Homo sapiens: one gene and its partners. The protein of the gene in region 7 purifies or fractionates together with the protein of the main gene of each other region. This does not show direct contact. Each region holds a gene or a part of one and is shown on either strand. Other genes may lie near its edges.

The links.
Region 1: the proteins of PCDHGA9 (region 7) and PDXDC1 purify together in Homo sapiens (affinity purification with mass spectrometry; one large-scale study listed by BioGRID and IntAct). This does not show direct contact.
Region 2: the proteins of PCDHGA9 (region 7) and GLRX3 purify together in Homo sapiens (co-immunoprecipitation; one large-scale study listed by IntAct). This does not show direct contact.
Region 3: the proteins of PCDHGA9 (region 7) and DDX19B purify together in Homo sapiens (co-immunoprecipitation; one large-scale study listed by IntAct). This does not show direct contact.
Region 4: the proteins of PCDHGA9 (region 7) and SAE1 purify together in Homo sapiens (co-immunoprecipitation; one large-scale study listed by IntAct). This does not show direct contact.
Region 5: the proteins of PCDHGA9 (region 7) and ADISSP purify together in Homo sapiens (co-immunoprecipitation; one large-scale study listed by IntAct). This does not show direct contact.
Region 6: the proteins of PCDHGA9 (region 7) and GMPS purify together in Homo sapiens (co-immunoprecipitation; one large-scale study listed by IntAct). This does not show direct contact.

The regions. Positions count from the first base shown.
Region 1 is NC_000016.10:15,027,026-15,030,525, reverse strand, and holds part of PDXDC1 (pyridoxal-dependent decarboxylase domain-containing protein 1), read right to left. Parts: intron 1,649-3,500; coding exon 1,560-1,648; coding exon of another isoform or gene 1,494-1,559; exon of another isoform or gene 721-1,493; intron 576-720; coding exon 470-575; intron 1-469.
Region 2 is NC_000010.11:130,167,391-130,170,890, reverse strand, and holds part of GLRX3 (glutaredoxin-3), read right to left. Parts: intron 1,459-3,500; coding exon 1,401-1,458; intron 1-1,400. UniProt on the Homo sapiens protein: Together with BOLA2, acts as a cytosolic iron-sulfur (Fe-S) cluster assembly factor that facilitates [2Fe-2S] cluster insertion into a subset of cytosolic proteins.
Region 3 is NC_000016.10:70,312,686-70,316,185, reverse strand, and holds part of DDX19B (ATP-dependent RNA helicase DDX19B), read right to left. Parts: intron 1,285-3,500; coding exon 1,231-1,284; intron 547-1,230; exon of another isoform or gene 218-546; coding exon 82-217; exon of another isoform or gene 44-81; intron 1-43. UniProt on the Homo sapiens protein: ATP-dependent RNA helicase involved in mRNA export from the nucleus.
Region 4 is NC_000019.10:47,200,335-47,203,834, forward strand, and holds part of SAE1 (SUMO-activating enzyme subunit 1), read left to right. Parts: intron 1-3,336; coding exon 3,337-3,406; intron 3,407-3,500. UniProt on the Homo sapiens protein: The heterodimer acts as an E1 ligase for SUMO1, SUMO2, SUMO3, and probably SUMO4. It mediates ATP-dependent activation of SUMO proteins followed by formation of a thioester bond between a SUMO protein and a conserved active site cysteine residue on UBA2/SAE2.
Region 5 is NC_000020.11:3,761,254-3,764,753, forward strand, and holds part of ADISSP (adipose-secreted signaling protein), read right to left. Parts: intron 1-3,500. UniProt on the Homo sapiens protein: Adipocyte-secreted protein (adipokine) that acts as a key regulator for white adipose tissue (WAT) thermogenesis and glucose homeostasis at least in part through activation of protein kinase A (PKA).
Region 6 is NC_000003.12:155,912,150-155,915,649, reverse strand, and holds part of GMPS (GMP synthase [glutamine-hydrolyzing]), read right to left. Parts: intron 1,232-3,500; coding exon 1,080-1,231; intron 1-1,079. UniProt on the Homo sapiens protein: Catalyzes the conversion of xanthine monophosphate (XMP) to GMP in the presence of glutamine and ATP through an adenyl-XMP intermediate.
Region 7 is NC_000005.10:141,405,778-141,409,277, reverse strand, and holds part of PCDHGA9 (protocadherin gamma-A9 isoform 1 precursor), read right to left. Parts: intron 1,258-3,500; exon of another isoform or gene 1,076-1,257; coding exon of another isoform or gene 1-1,075. Other genes in the region: PCDHGB6 (protocadherin gamma-B6 isoform 1 precursor), read right to left, coding at 1-1,075. UniProt on the Homo sapiens protein: Potential calcium-dependent cell-adhesion protein. May be involved in the establishment and maintenance of specific neuronal connections in the brain.

The DNA of each region.
Region 1 (3,500 bases), on a different chromosome or scaffold from region 7:
CCCCCAGGCTGGAGTGCAGTGGTGTAATCTCAGCTCACTGCAACCTCGGCCTCCCAGGTTCAAGTGATTCTCCTGCCTCAGCCTCCCAAGTAGCTGGGACTGCAGGTGTGTACCACCATGCCTGGCTAATTTTTTGTATTCTTAGTAGGGGCGGGATTTCACTATGTTGGCCAGGCTGGTCTCGAACTCCTGACCTCAGATGATCTGCCTGCCTTGGCCTCCCAAGGTGCTGGGATTACAGGTGTGAGCCACCATGCCCGGCCAATTCAGGTGACTTCTGAATTCTCATTCTGATTCTGGTAAGTTACATGGGAATGCTAATCTACCTAAATTTAGCCCAAAAGAAAAGAAAATGCCCCTCCAAAAAGAGCTGCTAATAACTCTAGGAGAATGGAGTATCATAAGGGCAAGCTAATCTACCCAGCAGCCCCAGAACAAAAGCAAGGGATGTCCACCAAGCCTGGTTTACCTGCTGCGGTCATCAAAGGGCTGAACCGCAAACACGTGCCCTCAGCTTCCAGATCCATGACTGTGAGGCCGCTTGCAGGCACCAGCTGCTTCAGCTGTTCTCCCAGCTGTGAGGAGGACACAATGAACACCCTCCTGTAACAAGGGACTCAGACGTCTTCAGGACCCACCCTCATCCCCTCGGCCCCAGACCAAAGAGCCTCCTGGAGAGCTGATTCCTGCTCTTTTGACTGTCTGATTACTTAGAGCAGCTTTTTAAAAACAGTAAATTTTATGGTTTTTTCTTATTAATACAAGTTCATTGTAGAAAAATTTAGGAAATACAAGTAAACAAAAAGAAGAAAATAACAATGACCCACAATATATTACTAAGCGACACCCACTGCTGACATGTGGTCTGCCCCCAGCGTCTTTTCTCCTAGTGGCGGGCAGGGAGTTGTAGTTGTTGTCATAAAACATGCTACTTGACACTGCTTAGTAACCTGCATTGATTCATTTCGTTTATGACCAGTTCCTTTCTGCTTGAGACACTCAGCTCTGTGGTCTCTCACAGCTGTGCTGAGCCCCAGCATGGATGTACCAGGACTTATCTGCCAACCCTGCTAGGCTGGGCGTGTCCAGCATTGGCTAGAACTGCTGCTGCCGCCATCCCACACTGTTCACAAGACCCTTCAGACTCAAATCCTAGAGCTGCTATTCAGTGCCCAAAACGCTATCAAAGTGCAGGCCTGGCTCCACACTGCCAGCTGCAGATGCTCGGCAGACTCTGCCTGGGGCTCCCGGCTGTGCTGCCCAGGCTCACCAGAACCCACCGCAGCTGCCCTGCAGCCCACCTTTTGCCTGTTGTCTCACAGCCTTATACAGCAGCAAGGAAAGTGAGGGAGCAATGCCAGAAGGACTTGCCAGAGGTGACCCAGCTCGTGAGGTGGTAACGCAATGGGGAACAGAACTCCAGAGCAGGCCCAGCACTGGCAGGGCGGCTCCTCCTGTGGGCCTCAGTTCCCATACACGAGCACGCGTCACCCTCACCAGCAGGTCGGATGGTGATGGACGGGGACCTGAAAGGAAAGGGGGGTGACTGCCATTCTCACCCAGCGATTCAGCGCGTCACACGAGTGCCTCTCCCGGCCGACTCCTGAAGGTGTCATGTTGGGCACTGGGACGGCTTTAAACACCGGATCTGACACCAAAACACAGAAAGGGAGTCACTCCCAGAAACACGGCTGACCAAAAAAAACACCCTCCAAACCCCACATCATTCCCATCCCAATATTAGCCCCAGGGCACTGACTCGTATTACTGAATTCTCATGTATTATCTGACAGAAGGGCTACATTTCTTTTTCCTCGTGATCTATGTAACACTTGAATACATTCACATAAGACAGAATTATTAATTTCATTTTTGAAAAGGTTTGCTTTCAAGGGATTTCAAGGGGAAACAGCAATTGTTTTAAGTTACTAACTAGTTTACCAAGCACCGTGCGAGGTCTGTGAGTGCCACGATCATCTAACTAGGCCTCACAGTGGGTGCCAACCCGTGCCAGGCACAGAGCCCGACACTTGGGACAGAAGGCAGGTAAGGTTTCTGTCATCTTGGAGCTTACATTTTAGTTGAGGAAACAGACCATAAAGAAAGAAAATCACTCCATGTGGTTGTTAGTGTCACAAGTGAAGCTGGGGGCTCTGATAGAAAATGATGGAGTCCCCTCAGGCACGATAGGCAGGGAAGGCTGAGGATGTGGATACTTAGTGGAGACCGAAATGGTGAGGAGGAGCTGGCACCAGAAGAGAGAAATGTGTGTAAGACAGAGGGAACGCCGAGTGTTAAGCCCTTGCGGTAGGAAAGGGCAGAGTGTTCTGGAGCGCGGAGAAGACTGGTCTGACTGAGGCACAACGAACAAGAGGGAGAGTGGAAGGGGGGAAGGCAGAAGCGAATTCGGGGCAGAGTGTGCAGGCCTCATGGGGCATGGGAGAGCCTGGCCTTTGTTCGACCGAAATGGTAAGATACCCAGGGGCTCTGGGCAGGGAAGTGACACTGATACGGGAGTGCTGGGAAGGGAAGAGCGTGGTCCCTTTAAATGACACAGAAGCGGGGAAGGGAAGTGCTGGGGAGAGAAAGGCGGGTCCCTGGCTAGGACTCTACCCCCACGGACCTAGGTGAGGACAAGCACTCCTGCCTTCCCCCAAATGTTGCATTTCCCAAGACCACGCTGGCCCACCACACCACCATCCTGGGCCTATAAAAACCTGAGACCCTAGTGGGCAGACAGAAGTGGCTGGATGGCCAGAGGAACACATTGGTGGAAAAAGACACAAGCGGCTGGTCATGGAGAGCAGGCCGGCAGAAGAGCACCCCGACAGGCCCCGGCAAGCCAGCAGGCCATCAACCACGGGGACGAGGCGGAGTTTGGCCAGGGCCGCTGAGCGGCCCAACTCCAAGGGAAATCTGTCTCCCTTCTGGCTCCCCCATCAGCGGAGAGCTACTTTCATTCAATAAAACCTTGCACTCATTCTCCAAGCCCACATGTGATCCCATTCTTCCGGTACACCAAGACAAGAACCTGGGATACATTAATCCCTCTGTCCTTGTGATAAGGAAGGGGGTCTAAGTGAGCTAAAACAAGCTGCCTACAGACGGCTAAATTAAAAGAGCACACTGTAACACATGCCCGCTGGAGCCTTAGGAGCTGTAAAACATTCACCCCCAGATGCTGCCATGGGGTCGGAGCCCCACAGCCTGCCCGTCTGTATGCTCTCCTAGAGGTCTGAGCAGCAGCGGGGCACTGAAGAAGCGAGCCACACCCCCATCACATGCCCTGCGAGGGGGACAAGGGAACCTTTCCGGTTTCAACACCATGTGACTTCCACTTATAACCCTCTCTGCCAGGTGGAGAATGGTCTGGAATGGGCTGTGTAGAATGTATGAAAGTCAGAGGTCAGTTGACAGGGGACAATGGCCAACCAGGTAAAAAAAGAGTGGTGCCCTGGACTAGACTGGTGGCACTTGGGTCATTCTTTAAGATACAGATT
Region 2 (3,500 bases), on a different chromosome or scaffold from region 7:
AAGTGCTGGGATTACAGGCATGAGCTACCGCATCCAGCCTCATTTATTTTTACATTACAGAATACTAACACTTTTTTGAGTTTATGAAAATCTTAAGCTTTTTTCATGCCACAGGACTCCAAATTCCAGCAATCTTGTGGAAAAGATATGGTACCATGTCAACATTTTAATAGCCCCAATAACATTGTTTCCAAAATGTATTAATACTTTCTAGGTTTCCAGAAAAAAATAGTTTTGAGAATAAATATCCACTTAAACCATTACCGAGAATAAGAAAAAATGTCACTTTATCATTACTAGGAATTATTAACTTCCTCTATTGTTTCAATACACTGAACCAAAATCAAAGAATTTAGGCCCTAACCTAATGTTTCCAACATGCTGAAATTTATATTAACATTTTCTTTGTTACTGTTACTTTCATTATTACCTAATTATATTAACCAGTTATGTTAACTAATTAGCTTCATTATACTAGTTATGTTAACTTATACACTAGTTATGGCAACCAGAGTCTGCCCTGTGAAGTATTGTGTCCCTTTCCCAATGAGCAAAGTGGTTCTCCATGTCACTTGCCCGGTGCATCTTGCTAACAAGTGAGGCAGTTTCTTTATTCCAACAGCCTCACCTTTCAAAACTTTGGTTTCTTTATCTCTAAAACAGGCCAAAGTCTGTCCAACCCTGCCTACTTCAACAACTGATTGAGAATTAAGTAGAGGTTCAATTGCTATGAAAATTACAAAATATGATATAAATGTGTATGGCTGGTTTCTGGAAATTACCACTCTGATCTCAATCTGAAAGAAAATTAGTTCTGCTCAAACTATCGGTGGAAGTAATCTATCAAACTTGATATTCAAAATGACGCATAATCAATATGTACTTACATCAAAAAGCTGTAAGAACCATCCCATTAAAAATGAGAATTGCTGACCATTTCACTCATTCATCAAACACACAGAGCACACCTGCTACAGCCAGGGTTTGCTCCTCCACTGTCACAAAAGGACGATCTAGGGGTGCAAACCCAAGCACGACCAGGTTCCCTGCATTCAGGAAGTCCACTGACTCAGCTGCACACTTCAGCAGTCCACAAACTCAAACAAAGGATAATGACATAACAACTCATACAACCAGTAAAGTGTTAACAGTGTTGACCACATTAGCTGACAAAGTTTGGCAGCAGAAAGAAATGCACCCCACTGAGATGTTGATGATAAAGTCAAGCAAAATGTAGATTACTTTGTTTGATCTCCGTAAGCACCAATTAAGGCGTGGATAACTTCCTGATATCGCTACAGCTTCATTAGCTAAAGCTAGGAAAAAGATTTAACTGTCCCCTTGTTGCAGATGTTAACATCAAAAGAAATTACAAATAAAACCATTTTTGAGTTCTTTACCTGTTTGTTTCCTTTCATAAAGAGCATCACAGAAGCTTTATTTGTCAGCACTTTGAGCCTAAAGAGAGAAAATTGATATAAAACGGCTCAGCTCAATTATGCAACACCACTTTTCCTCCGCTTCGTGAGTAACATGCATATTTGAGGGATGGCAGGATGACAGTTCACAGCTTTGAGTGGTATTAAACAAGCAAATGCGTTGACATTTTCCTTGATTTCATTCTCTCCCTAAGCCACTGTAAAACACAATATGGCTTTTAAGGCAACGAATGTTCCTTCAAGTTGCAATTTAAGCCCATCAACTCACAGTAATAAAAAAATAATAATAATAACCAATTCAGTAAGGAATTGTTCAATAAGGGGCCTATATATTAAGCCCATCCAAAACTTCCAGAACTAGATCTTGTGTGCACCATCTTCCATCATGATGCTGCATACCACTGTACACGTGTAAAGCTCACAAGGTCGGACTGCAGGGTGACAGCGTTAAACCTCAGAACATCAACTAATGCCAGATACTAAAATCAAATTCTCTCATCTTAACATGTTTTATATTTTATATAGTCTTTCAAACATCATAATCTAACATGCTGTCAGGAATTTTAATTATCTGTATACAGCCACAAGTTTAGTCACAAATCTCAAGAAAAGTCAGTGCTGGGACAACGGGTCACTAAAGAACCTAAGCCCCATGGGGTCACGCCACCATGTTCTCCCAATTCACAGCTCAAAAATCTCCTTAGAGGTTGGGCGCGGTGGCTCACGCCTGTAATCCCAGCACTTTGGGAGGCTGAGGCAGGTGGATCACGAGGTCAGGAGATCAAGACCATCCTGGCAAAACACGGTGAAACCCCGTCTCCACTAAAAAGTACAAAAGAATTAGCCGGACGTGGTGGCGGACGCCTGTGGTCACGGCTACCCGGGAGGCTGAGGCAGGAGAATGGTGTGAACCCGGGAGGCGGAGCTTGCAGTGAGCCAAGATAGCACCACTGCACTCCAGCCTGGGCTACAGAGCCAGAGTCCGTCTCAAAAAAAAATAATAATAAATATCCTTATAAACTCATCCCAAATGAAATGCATCAATCACGCACAAAGCTGTATCACTTACATTGCCAACCGAGTGGGATTAGCTCAAGTTCAGAAAAATATGAACAGATATAGGAATACAATGCTGACCCTGACAACCCAACTAACTAACCCAGTCACCTGGATACAGGGAACCACAGCTCACAAAGTACTGCCAAAATACATGTCACAAGTCCATGAACTCCACTTCCTACACTCTGCTCACTCGGAGCCCTTTAAATTATTACTCCAAATATGCTGAATTTTCCTTCCGACATAATTCTAGCCCGTTACCCTTTGGTGTCTGCAAGCACAGATTTAGAAGCAGCACATTAGGAAACGGAGGTCTGATGGAGACAAGGCCATTAACAGCGGCAAGTGCACTCAGCAGAGAAGGAAAATCAACTGAAGAGCAAATACAAGCATATAAAAAACACAGCTGTCTTTGGAGACCACACAGCCTCCATGGGCCAAGGGCATCACCAGGCTACAGGCAAGAACCACACATGAAGACGCCCAGAGTCAAAAAAGGGATGAGGAGTATCATTTTCTCATGAAGAACACAGGAAATGGTACCAACCACAGGACAGAATGCGGCACTCAAAGATCAGCCTGACATACGTGGATTGGACGCTGTTTATAGAAATTATTAATTAACGACAGACAAATGAGGTATTTATTATTATTAAACACTTTTAGAAATTCTCAAGATGTTACATGGCAAAAAAAAATTACCAAAGGAAGGTTTATCTTACAATCTCCAGCCCCAACTATGAATGGCTGATTGCTGATATAATAAATTCCTTTTTAAAGTTCTATATTAATTTTACTGCAATAAAAATCCCATTAAGTTGCCTTACACACCAAAGTCCAACATTTCTGTAAGAGAACGTCTCTAAAAGCCAAGTGAGATCCTTGATAAAACAAATACATGTTTCACACCTCCAAAATCTGTTCATGTAAGTTCTCGTGGTCTAGAAAGGCCATGAGAAGTGCTCAAAGCTTGTTGCGAGGTGATGAGTTTTTCACACTCAC
Region 3 (3,500 bases), on a different chromosome or scaffold from region 7:
TGGTCAAAAGATATCTATAACAGACCTAGGATCTCTATTTCAGTGCAAAGGGGAAGAGTCAGAAGGTGAATAAATACTCACAGCCGAAGCTCTTCAAAAGACTTCACCGAGTACAGAGGGGAGTTTGGATCCCGCTGCAGGACTTCCACTTGGTTTGTGTTATCAACAAGGTTGCTTCTGATCAGCTTGTTGAGTAAGGACTGGGCAGCTCTGTCCTCTGTCAGGAAAAAGAAAGCAAAGAATTTTAAAAAGTCCTTGAAACCTACCAGGCGTTTACTCTAATTCAACTGCCATTTGTATTTTAAATAATAATGTACTGAACATTCAAATTCAAGGTACGTCATAGTTTTGACTTATAAATTAAAATAGTTTTATTAAAGAAAAAAGTTATGATACATCACCCATTTAGGCCTCATATTCTTTTCCAGACTCTATTCTAACAGCCCTCTTTTCCTGCAGTTATCTATTCCTCCTATCCAGACCCACATATTTACTCCCCAATTTGTACTATATATAAACCTAAAGTAATTAATGTAGCAATCACAACAATAAAAAAAAAAACAGGAATTAACAAAGTCTGTACCTTAATATTGGACAAGTTGGTCTCGTCATCCATGTCAAATGTGTCAAAATAACATTAAGCTTAATTTTACTGGACAATAGAGATGCAACTGAAAATTTTTTATAATGCCCTATTCAACTGTTCAGTTGTTAAATGTAAAATTTCTCTAAACGTAAACCATTAGAACTCCTTCACCTACTGACTATTTATATTGAACTTTTTTTTTTTTTTTTTTTTGAGACAGAGTCTCGCTCTTTCGCCCAGGCTAGAGTGCAGTGGCTCGATCTCGGCTCATGGCAAGCTCTGCTTCCCGGGTTCATGCCATTCTTCTGCCTCAGCATCCCAAGTAGCTGGGACTACAGGCGTCTGCCACCATGCCCGGCTAATTTTTTTTTTTTTTTTTGTATTTTTAGTGGAGACGGGTTTTCACCGTGTTAGCCAGGATGGTCTCGATCTCCTGACCTCGTGATCTGCCCACCTCGGCCTCCCAAAGTGCTGGGATTACAGGTGTAAGCCACCGTGCCCGGCCCCTATATTGAACCTTTATGCTAGCACTGTATCGCCTATTAAAGTCAAGCCAAACTGGGTATAAAAATGAAGCCTCATAACAATCCACTTTCTTAGAATGTAGAAGCTTGTTATTATATAAAGCTCCACGGCTGTGTTACCTTTCTCTTCTTCATCTGTCTTCTCTGCATTGGCATTGGTCTTGACAACAGCACCTTTATAGACACAAAGTGGCCATCATTCAAAATCGCATCCCATACCCAACAGTTGAGACAATTCAAATTCTATGACACTAGAAGTTTTTGTAAAGGCCTGGGGAGCAAAAAATAAATGAGGAAACCGAGCCGCTGATAAAAACATTTTATTGTCCCTAAATAAACAAAGGTGTAAAACACTGTTGCTCACATATATATATATATAGATAGATATTTATTTTATTATTTATTTATTTTTGAGATGGAGTCTCGCTCTGTCGCCCAGGCTGGAGTGCAGTGGTGCGATCTCAACTCACTACAAGCTCTGCCTCCCAGGTTCACGCCATTCTCTTGCCTCAGCCTCCCGAGTAGCTGGGATTACAGGCACCCGCCACCACGCCCAGCTAATTTTTTTTGTATTTTTAGTAGAGACAGGGTTTCACCATGTTAGCCAGGCTGGTCTTGATCTCTTGACCTCGTGATCCGCCTGCCTTGGCCTCCCAAAGTGCTGGGATTACAGGCGTGAGCTACCGCGCCCGGCCTCTGTTGCTCATATTCTTTCCTATTCTAGGTCTCCTCTCCGTACCTCAAAACCTGTTATTTCCCTCATTGAATCAATACTTCTTAAATATTATAGAAAGATTAGAGCAATTAGTGATCAGAAACCACCTTGATGCTCAACAGAGGAATATCTATGCAAATCGTATTTTATCAATAGGTGAACACAATAATGCCATTAAAATTCATGTATATAACAAATGAGCAGTAAGACCAACAAAAAAAATTCATGCATATAAATTTTTTTTTTCTTTTTTTGAGATGCAGTCTCACTCTTACCCAGCCTGGAGTGCAGTGGTGCGATCTCAGCTCACTGCAACCTCTGCCTCCCAGGTTCAAGAGATTCCACTGTTTCAGTATCCTGAGTAGCTGGGATTACAGGGGTGCACCACCACACCTGGCAAATGTTTGTATTTTTAGTAGAGATGGGGTTTCACCATGTTAGTCAGGCTGGTTTCAAACTCCTGACCTCAGGTTATCCGCCAGCCTTGGCTTCCCAAAGTGCTGGGATTACAGGTGTGAGCCACCACACCCGGCCTATAAATTGATTAATATAAATTTATAGTCGAATGATACTGTGGTTATATAAAATCATACAAAAAAGATTTAAGTGAATTTTGAGAAAGGCAAATGTTACATTTCCTTCCTGTAATATTAAGTACATCAACAATAATTTAATGGAAATCTTAACTTTGGATAAATATGATTTCAGAATAATTAGGATAGGTAAACTGTCAGATTGCTCATACTTTGTCTATCTCATCCCAAATTGAGAACATTAAGAAAAAAATTAGTCTTTGTCAATGTAGTCCGATGGTTAGTAATTAGTCCCACTTAAGTAGCCTCATTCTTTGTTCCCCCCACACCCTTGCTATCAGTGTGCAATCCTCATTCTTGTATTAAAAACACTTTGAAACCAGGTGTAATATCTCACTCCTGTAATCCCAGCACTTTGGGAGGCTGAGGCGGGAGGACTGCTTGAGCCTAGGAGTTAGAAACCAACCTGGGCAACACAGGGAGTCCTCATCTCTATAAAAAAACAAAAATACCTGGGCACAGTGGCTCACACCTATAATCCCAGCACTTTGGGAGGCCAAGGCCGGTGGATCATGAGGTCAGGAGATTGAGACCATCCTGGCTAACACAGTGAAACCCCATCTCTACTAAAAATACAAAACATTAGCCAGGCGTGGTGGCAGGTGCCTGTAGTCCCAGCTACCCGGGAGGCTGAGGCAGGAGAATGGTGTGAAGCCGGGAGGTGGAGCTTACAGTGAGCCGAGATCGAGCCACTGCACTCCAGCCTGGGCAACAGAGCGAGACTCTGTCTCAAAAAAATAAAAAATAAAAAATAAAAATTAGTTGGGCGTAGTGGGTTGTGCCTGTAGTCCCAGCTACTCAGGAGGCTGAGGTGGAGGATCACTTGAGTCTGGGAGGTTGAGGCTCCAGTGAACCATGATTGAACCACTGCACTCCAGCCTGGGCAACAGAGCAAGACCCTGTCTCTTAAAAAGTAAACAGAAACAAAAAAATAAATAAAAACACTTTGGTCATACAATCCAGTTTGTTGATTTACAAATCAAATGGTACCAGTATCTGCCAATGCCCTGCCTGGTACAAATACAAATTTTTTTCCAGACAGTTGTTATGCCAAAACAAAAATACTGAAGGAAATCACATTT
Region 4 (3,500 bases), on a different chromosome or scaffold from region 7:
CAACACTCTCATCTCGGCCTCTTGCGTAGCTGGGACTATAGGCGTGTACTACCAAGCCTGCCTAATTTTTTTTTTTTTTTTTTTTTTTTGTATTGACAGGGTCTCACTATGTTCACCAGGCTGTTTCCTATTTTTTAAAGTTATGAACCGCATAACAAGAGAGTATACAAAGCACATCTGCCTGAGTTAAATGATAATTAATACTTATTTATTTTTGTTGTAGAGACGGGGGTCTCACTCTGCTGCCCAGGCTGTTCTCAGACTCCTGGATTCAAGCCATCCTTCTGCCTTGGCTTTCCAAAACTTCTGGGATAGACAGGCGTCAGCCACTTGTATCTCTTTTAATTTGGAATAGCCCTTGGCAAACTGGCTTGCCACCTCTTTTTGTAAATAAAGTTTTATTGGCACACTTACTCATTTATATATTATCTGTGGCAGCTTTTGTGCCACAGCAGGGTTAAATAGTTATAACAAAGACCATATGGCCCATAAAGCTGAAAATATTTTATTATCTGGTTCTTTTGTTTGTTTGTTTGTTTTTGAGACAAAGTTTCACTTTGTCACCTAGGCTAGAGTGCAGTGGCATGATCTCGGCTCACTGCAACCTCCACCTCCCGGGTTCAAGTGAATCTCCTGCCTCAGCCTCCTGAGTAGCTGGGATTACGGGCATACGCCACCATGCCCAGCTATTTTTTTTTATTTTTTTATTTTTTTTATTTTTTTTTGAGATGGAGTCTTACTCTGTCACCCAAGCTAGAGTGCAATGGCCCGATCTTGGCTCACTGCAACCTCCGCCTCTGTGCTCTGTGGTTCAAGTGATTCTTCTGTCTCAACCTCCTGAGTAGCTGGGACTACAGGCGCGTGCCACCACGCCCGGCTAATTTTTGTATTTTTAGTAGAGATGGGGTTTCACCATATTGGCCAGACTGATCTCAAACTCCTGACCTCATGATCCACCCAGCTTGGCCTCCGAAAGTGCTGGGATTACAGGCATGAGCCACTGCACCTGGCCTGTTATCTGGTTCCTTTTTTTTTTTTTTTTTTTTTTTTTTTTTGAATCAGAGTCTTGCTGTGTCACCCAGGCTGGAGTGCAGTGGCGTGATCTCGGCTTATTGCAACCTCTGCCTCCCAGCTTTAAGTGATTCTTTTGCCTCAGCCTCTGGAGTAGCTGGGACTATAGGCACGTGCCACCACGCCCAGCTAATTTCTGTATTTTTAGTAGAGACGGGGTTTCACCATATTGGCCAGACTGAACTATTCCTCCAATACGGCCAAAATGAGATTCTACCAGCAATGGGAGGAGTTTTTTTAATTATTATTATTGGGAGTCTCTCTCTCACCCAGGCTGGAGTGCAGTGGCACCATCTCGGCTCACTGCAACCTCCACCTCCTGGGTTCATGCAATTCTTCCACCTCAGCCTCCCGAGTATCTGGCATTACAGCTGCCCGCCACCACACCCGGCTAACTTTTGTATTTTAGTAGAGACGGGGTTTCACTATGTAGGTCAAGCTGGTCTTGAACTCCTGACCTCAAATGATCCACCCGCCTTGGCCTCCCAAAGTGCTGGGATTACAGATGTGAGCCACCGCACCCAGCCCTAGTTCTCCATGTATTTTAGAGCTCTGTAGTGGACCTTGATAAGCAGGAAGATGTTACCCCTGGATGAACAAAATGGGAATGTGCTGGTCCTGGCCAGGGCGTAAGGAGCCGGAGGTGCCTTTGGACACAGCTCTTGGGATTGGAATGGATACAGCCTTTTGGGAGGGCATTTTGGCAATACATATGAAAAACTAGCATTGCTATATTTAGAAATTTGTCTTAAGGAATTATTTCGACGCCTGTGTCTTTGTCAAGATGTATGATTACAGTGTTGAACAGCTTAAATGTCCCTCAATAGGTTATAGAACAGAAGAGTAATAGTTGATAATATTTGGGTTTAAAATTATACCTATTTATTTATTTATTTATTTTTTGAGACAGTCTTGCCCTGTCACCAGGCTGGAGTGTAGTTGTGCGATCTCAGCTCACTGCAACCTATGCCTCCCAGGTTCAAGCGATTCTCCTGCCTCAACCTCCTGAGTAGCTGGGACTACAGGCTCACCCCACCACACCAAGCTAATTTTTGTATTTTTAGTAGAAACGGGGTTTCACCATGTGGGCCAGGATGATCTCGATCTCTTGACTTTGTGATCCGCCCACCTCGACCTCCCAAAGTGCTGGGATTACAGGCATCAGCCACTGAGCCCGCCCTAATTATACCCGTTTAGATTGTGCACTTTTAAAAATGTCTAGAAGGGGCTGGGCGCAGTGGCTCACACCTGTAATCCCAGCGCTTTGGGAGGCCGAGGCGGGCGGATCACGAGGTCAAGAGATTGAGACCATCCTGGCCAACATGGTGAAACCCCGTCTCTACTAAAAATTCAGAGTAGCCGGGCGTGGTGGCGGGTGCCTGTAGTCTCAGCTACTCAGGAGGCTGAGGCAGGAAAATGACATGAATCCGGGAGGCGGAGCTTGCAGTAAGCCAAGATCGCGCCACTGCACTCCAGCCTGGGTGACAGAGCGAGACTCCGTCTCAAAAAAAGTCTAGAAGGATGTGCACCACACTGGGGAGATTGGAGGTAGTTCTGTAGGGAGGCTTTCCCTTTCACTTGTCTGTGTTCCAGTTTGCTTGGTGAGCACACAGCATTGTGTTCAGGAGTAGGAGCTGGCAGAGCACACTTCCTTTGGGGAAGTGGTGGAATTAAGTGATTTGCTTACTAGGATGGGTAACTTGGAGGGGCAGGTGACTGTGTCATCTAAAATTTGTCCTCTAGATGCCCCATCCTGGCCCAGAAGGGCTGGTTTCTATGTGGGTTGTGAAGACTTTTTCTGCCCTCATACTTTAATTTCACGCCTCAAATTTCCCTTGCTTCCTACATGTTAACACAGGCCTGCTCCCTGACATTTGTCTGGGAATAGCATATAGAACCCACTGGCCATTATGGGTAAGAAGAGAATTGCGAGAATGTGACCAGGGCACTGAAACATCTGATATCTCTAGGACAGATATAGGAAGCACAGATATAGTCTTTCCTTTAACTTATAAAGGTAAAAATAAAAGTATTGTGAAAGAATTTCTGCTTGCCAAAGTTCAAAGGTCTTTTCCAACCACTTATGAATCCCTTGCTCAGATTTCATTTTCACGCCTAGATGCCAGCATTAACACTGCTATCTGAATCGGGCCCTCCTGCTAGAAGTTGTTTTTATTCAGGAGAGCCTACTACTGAATTTCTCCAGATGTCATGGTCACAGTTCTGTTCCCAGTGCTCCATTTTCCTTGTCTTCCTCTCTTTTAGGTACTGCTTCTCCGAGATGGCCCCAGTGTGTGCGGTGGTTGGAGGGATTTTGGCACAGGAAATTGTGAAGGTAAAACATCACTGTGGAGCAGAAAATTGTTAACCATGACTTTGTATATGTGCTGACAGAGAGAATGGAAACTGTCTTAGACAGCTGCCTGCTT
Region 5 (3,500 bases), on a different chromosome or scaffold from region 7:
CTAAACCAGAGGGGAAGGTTGACAGGAAGCAGATACTCACAGGCGCCCAAGCGTCACTGACAGAGGACCTGGTATGGTTTTTGTTTTTTTTTTTTTTCTGAGACGGAGTTTCACTCTTGTCACCCAGGCTGGGATGCAATGGCACGATCTCGGCTAACTGCAACATCTGCCTCCTGGGTTCGAGCGACTCTCCCACCTCAGCATCCCGAGTAGCTGGGACTACAGGCGCCCGCCACCACGCCTAGCTAATTTTTGTATTTTTAGTAGAGACAGGGTTTCACCATGTTGGCCAGGCTGGTCTCGAACTCCTGACCTCAAGCAATCCGCTCACTTCGGCCTCCCAAAGTGTTGGGATTACAGGTGTGAGCCACCATGCCTGGCCGAGGACCTGGTGTTTAAGAGGAATGGCACAAGTTTGCAATGGAGGTATGTGACTTCTCCCAGTCACACACTGGTCTATCTCTCTACTCTCTGCAGGACAGCCTGTCACACTGATGCCTCCTGAAGTAAGGCAGCCCAAAGTCACAGCATCACTGACAAGGGATTCCTGCCAAAAAGGTTTAACCTGGAATCTAAACCAGCCTCTAACTTCAACTTCTCATTTGCTAAAAACACAGAGGAGAGGGGAACAAATTTAATGACTCCATGAGAAAGCAATGAGACGAGCCCAGAAGGCAGGATATTCTACAGGATGACTGACCTGTTTTTTGTTTTTGTTTTTGTTTTCAAATGTCAAGAAGAAAAAGAAAGCAGGCTGGGAACGGTGGCTCACGCCTGTAATCCCAGCACTTTCACGGATCACAAGGTAAGGAGTTCAAGACCAGCCTGGCCAACATAGTGAAACCCAGTCTCTACCAAAAGTACAAAGATTAGCCGGGTGTGGTGGCGGGCAGCTGTAGTCCCAGCTAGTTGGGAGGTTGAGGCAGGAGAATCACTTGAATCCGGAAGGCGGAGGTTGCAGTGAGCCAAGATCGCGCCACGGCACTTCAGCCTGGGTGACACAGCGAGACTCTGTCTCAAGAAAAAAAAAAAAGAAAGAAGAAAAATAAAACGAGGGAGATTATTCTAGATAGGAAAGCAGCAAACTACAGCTGATTACACAGCTGATGGTAAGGTTGCTGCCTGTTGTGTTTTTGTTTTTGTTTTTGAGACAGGGTCTCACTCTGTCCAGCCCAGGCTGGAGTCCAGCTCACTGCCACCGTAATCTCCCAGGCTCAAGCAATCCTCCCACCCCAGCCTGCCAAGTAGCTGAGACCACAGCCACGCACCACCATGCCCGGCTAATTTTTGTAGAGACAGAGTTGCCCAGGCTGGTCTCAAACTCCGGAGCTTAAGCGATCCACCCACCTCAGCCTCCCAAAGTGCTGGGATTACAGACGTGAGCCGCCAGGCCTGGCAAATAAATTTTTGCAAATAAAGTTTTACTAATAGAACACTACACTTCATTCACTTACATGTTGTCTGTTTTTGCACTAAAACAAAGTTACTTCCAAGTAGTTATGATAGAGACCATATGGCCTGCAAAGTCTAAACCATTTATTATTTGGCCCTTCAGAGCAAAAGTTTGCCAACCCTTGTTCTAGATCAACACACACTTAACAGACCAAAAAAGGATAATCTTCAGGACAACTGACCTGTTTTTTTCACCACATCAGCTGCAAGAAGAAAAATAAAGGAGAGGGTGTTTCGAACTACCTATCAAAGAAGACATTTTGGGGGGTGCCGGGCGCTGCGGCTCACACCTGTAATCCCAGCACTTTGGGAAGCCAAGGCGGGTAGATCACCTGAGGTCAGGAGTTTGGGACCAGCCTGGCCAACATGGCGAAACCCCATCTCTACTAAAAATACAAAAATCAGCTAGGCATGGTGGTGTGCACCTGTAATCCCAGCTACTCAGGAGGCTGAGGCAGGAGAATCGCTTGAACCTGGGAGGCGGAGGTTGCAGTGAGCCAAGATCCCGCCACTGCACTCCAGCCTGGGTGACAGAGCGAGACTCTGTCTCAAAAAAAAAAAAAAAAAAAAGGCCGGGTGAGGTGGCTCACGCCTGTAATCACAGCACTGTGGGAGGCTGAGGCGGGCGGATCACCTGAGGTCGGGAGTTCAAGACCAGCCTGGCCAACATGGAGAAACCCTGTCTCTACTAAAAAATACAAAATTAGCCAGGCGTGGTGGCGCATGCCTGTAATCCAGCTACTCGGGAGGCTGAGGCAGGAGAATCGCTTGAACCCAGGAGGCGGAGGTTGCGGTGAGCCGAGATTGCGCCACTGCACTCTAGCCTGGGCAAAAGGAGCAAAACTCCGTCTCAAAAAAAAAAAAAAAAAGACATTTGGGGGATCTGGAAAATGTAAATGGCCTGGATATGAGGTAACACTAAGAAATGAGTTGATCATGGAATTGTATTATGTAAAGAATTATGTCCTTATTTTGTCAGGGAAACATACTGAACAACTTAGAGATGAGTGACACTGGCTCATCAGTCCAGGGACAGAAGAGGAACTACAGGGTGGCCTCATAGTTTAGGGCTGGGCCTGTGGAGGGCATGATCTCAAGGTCCCTCTGGTGCCAAGCTGCTCTGGGAGCAGATGTGGCCTCACCTCGCTCCCCACTTCTCAATGTGGGCAAAGTCCACCCAGGCCCAAGCCCTGCCTCATGGGCAGGGTGTTCACAGTTTGGGTACCACCAGGAGCCCCCTTTGGCCAATGGACCAGGCCAGCAACCCCCTCTTGGAGGTGAGCTTCCAGGCCCCAGCCCAGGGTGCAGGAAGTGGAGCTACACCCATTCACCTCTGGCCAGGGCCACTGTGGGGTCAGTTGCCTCAGCCCTGGAAAGCTCAGCTTGTCCCCAGGGAACTTGGTCTTGGAGAGCAGCCTGCCGTAACCGCCCCCCGACTACAGCTGCCCCCAAAGCTGTGAACTCAGAGTATATGACAAATGGCCAAGCACAAGAGTGTGAGGCCCTCCTATCCTGCAGAGGCTGCTCCAGCCACACCTCTGCAGCCAGGAGGCAGTGACAGCCCAGTGTCCTCAAGGTCCCCCCATCTCCCAGGATGCTTCCTGAAGGCTCTGGTTAAACTGCACCAGTGGCTGGTGAGCAAAGGCTGCAGGCCCTTTTCACAAAACACTCTGAACTGGTCCATGCAGGGCACCCTCCCTGTCTTCCTCCCAACCTACTGCCTGACCGTCCCCCCGCCCTGCCTTTGCCCAGGTCATCCCTTCAGCCAGGAACAATCCCGTCCCTCCCAGCCACACCTTCGACAGGGTCTCAGCCCCAACATTTCTTTTTTAAGGATGCACACCCTGCAAATCCCAGGACAGGACTACAGCTCTTTTTGGAATCCCCTTTCTCATGTCTGGGATCATTTGATATCCCTCTTCCTCACCTTACAAGGGTAGTGACTGTGTTTTTGTCAAACCCTGTGTCCCCGGCACTCAGCGCAGCACCAGACAGGGAGGAGCTGTGTTTGGTTTATGTTTGTTGAATGAATGACCACATCACATTTG
Region 6 (3,500 bases), on a different chromosome or scaffold from region 7:
GGCAGGCAGATCACAAGGTCAGGAGTTTGAGACCAGCCTGACTAACATGGTGAAACCCCGTCTCTACTAAAAATACAAAAACTAGCCGGGCATGGTGGCACACGCCTGTAATCCCAGCTACTCAGGAAGTTGAGGCAGGAGAATCGCTTGAACCCTGGAGGCAAAGTTTGCAGTGAGCCAAGATTGCACCACTACACTCCAGCCTGGGCGGCAGAGTGAGACTCCATCTCAAAAAAAGAAAAAAATTAGCTGGGCATGGTGGTGCATGCCTGTAATCCCAGCTACTCGGGAGGCTGAGGCAGGAGAATCGCTTGAACCCAGCAGGTGAAAGTTGCCGTGAGCCAAGATCGCTCCATTGTACTCCAGCCTGAGTGACAAGAACAAAACTCCGCCTCCAAAAAAAAAAAAAAACAAAAACAAAGGTATGTGAACATTCCATTCAAGAGCTTGAAATTAGCCATTGAGATAATCAATGAATTAAAGTCTATGATAAGCTGAATACATCTACTCTTAAAGACATCTATTCTTAAAATAATAGCCTGGCAATGTAGGCAAACATGTTTATTAAAACATAAAACAGTTGGCTGGGCATAGTGGCTCACACCTGTAATCCCAGAAGTTCGGGAGGCTGAGGCGGGCGGATCATGAGGTCAGGAGATCCGGACCAACCTGGCCAACATGGTGAAACCCCCGTCTCTACTAAAAGTACAAAAATTAGCTGGGCATGATGGTGCACCCCTGTAGTCCCAGCTACTTAGGAGGCTGAGGCAGGAGAATCACTTGAACCCAGAAGGCAGAGGTTGCAGCGAGCCGAGATCGTGCAACTGCACTCCAGCCCAGCCTGGTGACACAGCAAGACTCTGTCTCAAAAAAACAAAAAAAAAACCAAACAACAACAAAAAAACATAAAACAGTTTCTACTGGTCAATATAATGACAATATACAATAAAACTCTCAGCCACATAAGAAAAAGGATTAAAATTAGCTAATTTGGTTATTTGATATAGTGACAAGGAAAAACAAATACTAAGATTCACATCAAAAATAGTACATGTTGAGGATATTAAAAACAAAGGTACCTTAACAAAAGTATCCCCAATGATTTTTCTTTTCTCTTCAGGACTTGTGGTCATATTTAACGTTTTGCTAATTCTTTTCCGTGGGGTTCTATCTTCATCTGATATTGGTAGGGTTGTTGTTCCATTGTAGAAAGAATGAGCAGCATTTATCACTGGAGGAAAGGGGAGAAGCGTTTTAAATTGGTATAACATGTTTTTTAATCAAAAATAACAAGTCAAAATACAGAAAGAAAAGCTATTTCTTTCCCAGTCTGAAGAGCAGTCCTTTGATCTCCCCTAAATCTGCCTACAAATTTCAATAAACTATCAATATTCAAGAATTATTGGCCGGGCCCGGTGGCTCATGCCTATAATCCCAGCACTTTGGGAGGCCGAGACAGGTGGATCACGAGGTCAGGAGATCAAGACCATCCTGGCTAACATGGTGAAATCCCATCACTACTAAAAATACAAAAAATTAGCTGGGTGTGGTGACGGGTGCCTGTAGTCCCAGCTACTTGGGAAGCCGAGGCAGGAGAATGGTGTGAACCCGGGAGGCGGAGCTTGCAGTGAGCAGAGATTGTGCCACTGCACTCCAGCCTGGGTGACAGAGAGAGACTCCATCCCCAAAAAAAAAATAAGAAAAGAAAAAGAACTATCAATAAATCCTGAGTAACAGAATTCAGATACAGGCACTCATTAAATTTTGTTTCTGTGAGAATCTCCTGGCATTTAGATCTAGGGCCATGACATCACAAATTATGCTGATTAGGGCCGGCACGGTGGCTCACACCTGTAATACCAGCACTTTGGGAGGCCAAGTTGGGTGGATCACTTGAGGTCAGCAGTGTGAGACCAGCCTGGCCAAAATGGCAAAACCACATCTCTACTAAAAACACAAAAATTAGTGGGGCGTAGTGGCACATGTCTGCAATCCCAGCTACTCAGAGGCTGAGGCAAGAGAATTGCTTAAACCTGGGAGGCAGAGGTTGCAGTGAGCCGAGGTTGTGCCACTGCATTCTGCCCTGGGCAACAGAACAAGACTCTGTCTCAAAAAAAAAAAAAAAATTTATGCTGATTGTTTTCCCTCTCTTCAGTGCTTCACCAGAGCAACAAGCAGAAGCCACAGCAAGAAGCTTAGCCCCAAAGAAGTCAAAAGCACCGGCTCCTAAACGGAGTCAAAGCTGTTGGAATCACACCCTAGTGTCTTGTAAAACTAATATTTATGAACATACATTTAACAATCCTTGGCTTTTTATTTAATGACAAGAAACTAAAAACTAAGATCTCTATTTGCTAATAAAACTTAGCTACTGGAGGCCTTCACCGTAAGATGACAAGGCAGCTGGCTATTTCATTGTGGAAAAGCCAGTGAATTTGTAGGTCTTTCCTGTACCTGGTCAACTACCCAGAGAAGACATATCTACTCTCCTGCCTATTGGCATTCTGGCAGTTAAACAGAGGAAGTGGTAGGAAGAGGGAATCACCATTCAGCATAGAGAATTTTACTTAATCCTGTTCTTAATGTAGAGTCTTACCTCCACCCTCAACTATGCCTGGTATTAGTAGGCTCAAGCCCAGAACCTCTCGTTTAGCCCCTCTAGAGAATACATCCACAGTGTTCTGATGGGGAAGGAGAGCACAGTTTGCTCCTGTGCTAAGGAAAAGGATCTGCTTCTCAGATTTTTAACTAATCCCTGTTTTAGGCTAACCCAGAGACCAATGTCCCAAAAAGAACCCAATGCTTCAAATTCCTGAGCCTCCCCAGAAGTCTACAGCACAAATCAGCTTGCTTTTTATTGGCTTCCTTCCCACCCCACCCCAAGGTTGTGAATTCCTCCATTCTGCTATGTCAGTTACCAGGGACAGATCCAAGTTTTACAATTTGAAGGACTCCTTCAAGAACCAGAATAACAAATAAGATACTAAAAATCTTAAGTTATACTGGGATGGCTAACAAGTACTTAACTATACACAGAAATAATTGCAAATCACATATATACCACTAAACCCATACTAAGCACATCCCCAGCTCATCTTTGTCTTAGCCTGATTTCAAAATGCCCACAGCTATTCCAGCACCACCTAACAGAAAACAAGTCAGAGTTGAAAGAAAATAAACAACTACAAATTATCAAAATATCTTGCAAATTTCACAAAAACCTATCACCATGTGAAGATACCATTGGGGACCTTCCCAGGATGTTGGGAGAGACCCCCCTAGCTTAAACAGAGAAAATCCACCTTTACCCATCTGCTTTCCACTTTCCAACACTTTATTGAAACCATCTGTCTTCTGTCATCTCCTCTATCCCACATCCTTAAGGTATTACACTGTTTTATGCTTTTACTGTTATTTTAGAGAAGTTTCAAAAAAATAGACTCATGTTCACATCATACTTACCTACAAGTCTTCATTTTATTCAGCCTTTTGGTATCAAT
Region 7 (3,500 bases):
TCTCCAAAATCTGATCAGAGAGAGAAGTGATGATTATTTCTGGGCTGTTGTCGTTTTCATCAAGGATTTCTATGATTACTTTACACTGGGTAGAGAGACCACCTCCGTCCTTCGCTTCCACTTCCATGGTGTACCTTTCTACATCTTCAAAATCAAATGACTGGTTATTCTTAATCATACCTGTTTTCTCATCCAATGAGAACATATGTTTTGTGCTCTGGGCAGTGCTTCGGAAGTAGTAGTTTATCTCAGCATTGACCCCCTCATCCTGGTCAGTGGCTGTCACTTGCAACACAGGGGACCCAGGGGGCAGATTTTCACTAAGACTAATTCTATATTCGTCTCTGCTGAAAACCGGGGGGTTATCATTGGTATCCTTGACAGAAATTTCTATGTGAGCGGTGGCACTTCTTGGTGGGTCCCCTCCGTCCAAGGCAGTCAATATCAAGCTATGAGATCTCTGTTCTTCCCGGTCTAGGAGTTTCTCCAGAGATAACTCTGGGTATTTGCCACCATCGGAATTAACTCTAACCATTAATGAAAAATAAGGATTAGAGTTTATCTTATAATCTTTAATTGAGTTTATGTTTATATCAGGATCCGTGGCAGGGTCAAGCGATAGTCGTGTACCAGCGGATGCAGATTCGAAAATTTCTAAATGTATTTCCTTTTTATCAAATTGAGGGGCGTGGTCATTAACATCCTCAATCACCACAATGACATGAAAAATATTTAAAGGATTTTCCACCACAGCTTCCAATTGCAACTCACATCTTCTTCTCTCTTTGCATATTTGCTCACGGTCTATTCGGTTCTTCACAAGTAAGTCCCCGCTCTCCGCGTCTACGCTGAAGTGCAGCTTCTCCGCGCTCACTCGCAGCTTGCGAGCCGACACATCCAGGACACTGAGCCCTAGATCCTTAGCGAGGTTCCCCACCACCGAGCCCTTGGCCAGCTCCTCCGGAATCGAGTAGCGGATCGGCTCACTCAGGGTGGGGTAGAACAAAGGCAGCAGCAAAGGAAATAGCACCTGCCGCGGGCCGGCCCGGCGCCTCTGCGCGCAGCTCCCTCCCATCGTTCGCTCGGGTTCTCGCTGGGTCCCCGCTTTTCCAGTTGGAGAAAGTGCACTCTACCGCGCTAAAAGAGCATTCGGCCCAGGACAGGAGGAGTCCCGGGTCTCGGAGCTGGCAATCCGCTGTGCTGGGAAAGGTCTGCGCAGCCGGGAGGCTCTGTGTGGGAGCTGGTTTTCTTCTTTCTGTTGTTGGCTGCGCAGGGAATCCCAGGCCAGAGGCTGACGGATCCCCGGCGTCAGCGCTTGCTCTGCACTGGCCGACAGCGGCGCCCAGAGGCTCCGTGCGGGACAGCAGCCCGGTTTTTCATTTTGAATTCGGTCTCCGAAATGTATATATTCTTCGAAAATGCAGGTGTACATCCCCCTCAAATTTTGCTCTCACCATAATATTATAGTAGATATTTCTATGCTTTGTGTTTTAAATAAATCTATTATGCACAATTTCAAACTTATACAACAGTAGGGAGTATATATAGTGAACCTTCACATAGCCATCACCCCACCTTCAACAATGATCACCACAAAGCCAATCTTTGTTTAATATATACTGCGCTCCCCCATTATTTTTAAGTAATACGAGATATAGAATGTCAACCAATGCTTCTTTTTAAGATGAGACATTAAGGTCAAGAATTTTATCTTTCAGCTTATGTTCTACAATCTGTTACCAATGCACAATAAGTTAAGTCCTACATAGCCTAAGAAAAACAGAAATAAAGATTTTCCATACTCCATTCAGTCATCTGTCTGGTGAGCCTCGTGTTCTGGTTTTAAGGGCAAGAGACATTTTTGTGGTATCGAATAGTAACTACCTACCATGACATACAAGCCTTCATGGATATCTGTTATGTTTTCCCCAAATTAACATACATTTCAATATTTATAAATACTAAGTATGAAGGCTACTCCTCAGAACAGAAATTGTAACAATTTTCTTGTTGCATGGTTAAAAATATGAGCCTGAAGTATGCTTTATTTTTTTTGCTACCCACTTAAGGGGGAAAACGTGTTTGAAATAATTAAAATGTCTGTATGTCATAAAGGATTCCCAGACACTTCAGCTTTTTTTTCTTAAAAATAAAGCAACTGAAACCCAAATAATTACAAACAAATAAAACAATTCTTCATTTCCACAGAAATGCCAGCAGTCATCAGTGTATCTATGGATCACATGTTTAGCATAGAATTTTGAGTCAACTTCAAAGCTTATTTTCAAATGTCTTGTGAAATGTTATTTACTATTTGAAACAACACTATGTTTAAAATAACATTAAATAATACATTATTCTCTTCCTTATAGCTAAAAACAGTAAAATAGTTTTAGAATCTTCCCAGCAGTTCCTGAGAATATTTTCTTAAATTATATCTGATATGCAAGTTCATTTCTAGACTCAAAAGTTGGAGAATTGAGCCAGAAATAATATATAAGTGAGAGAAATATTTTTAATTCCTTGTTTTGTCATTTCACAGTGTCCAGTCTTAGAAACTTCTCTTGAGCAAGCATATACTATAGAAAAGAAGAATGTCCTACTATTCTCCATAATTTAACATTAAAGCATTAGGAAATTAAGACCTTTGAAGATATGAGAATAAAAGATGTGACAACTTTCACCATTAAAGGGAAAAAATTGGTTTACTAGGGTTTGGAAGTGGATAACTGAAGTTTGAATCTTCGTCAGAAAATATCTGTAAACACAAACAGACTTTACACACTTGTGATCTGAAAAATATAACCTCAAAGAGGTGTTTTCCTGTCATAGAAATGGAAGAATAGAAGCAATAAATCTGGGCTTTCAGCTGTTTCTCTAAGAAGAATACATTTACCTTTTTATCAGTTTACCCTTACAAACATAGTATGACCTGAATAAATGATCGTAGGAGTAAGAATTTGCTGGGTGAGGTGGTTCACACCTCACCCAGTGCTTTGGGAAACTGAAGCAGGAAGATCGTTTGAGACCAGTCTGGGCAACATAGCTTGCTAGCCCTCCCACCTCAGTCCTAGCTACTGTGAAGGCTGAGGTGGGAGGATTGCATAAGCCCAGGAGATTGAGACTGCAGTAAGCTTTACCCACACCACTGCATTCCACCCTGGACAACAGAATGACACCCCCATCTCTTAAAAAAAAAAAAAAAGGAGTAAGAATTTTATGATATGAGTCCACTGCAACCAATGAAGCAACCCTACCCAAAAAGCCCACATCAATGCAGGCTGAGAGCTACCCCATGAAGTATGGTTTACGTTGACAGCAGGTTAATTATTATGAGAACATGAAAGTTATATCAGCAAATATAACTAATAAATGCCTCCTTTCAGTGTTGGAGCAACAATTAGGCCCAGTGAAAAGTGATGAGAAACACACTGATATCAACTTATACTACCTTAAGTACAGACAGTTAAAGAGAAAGCTAACTATAATAGAAAGTTAAG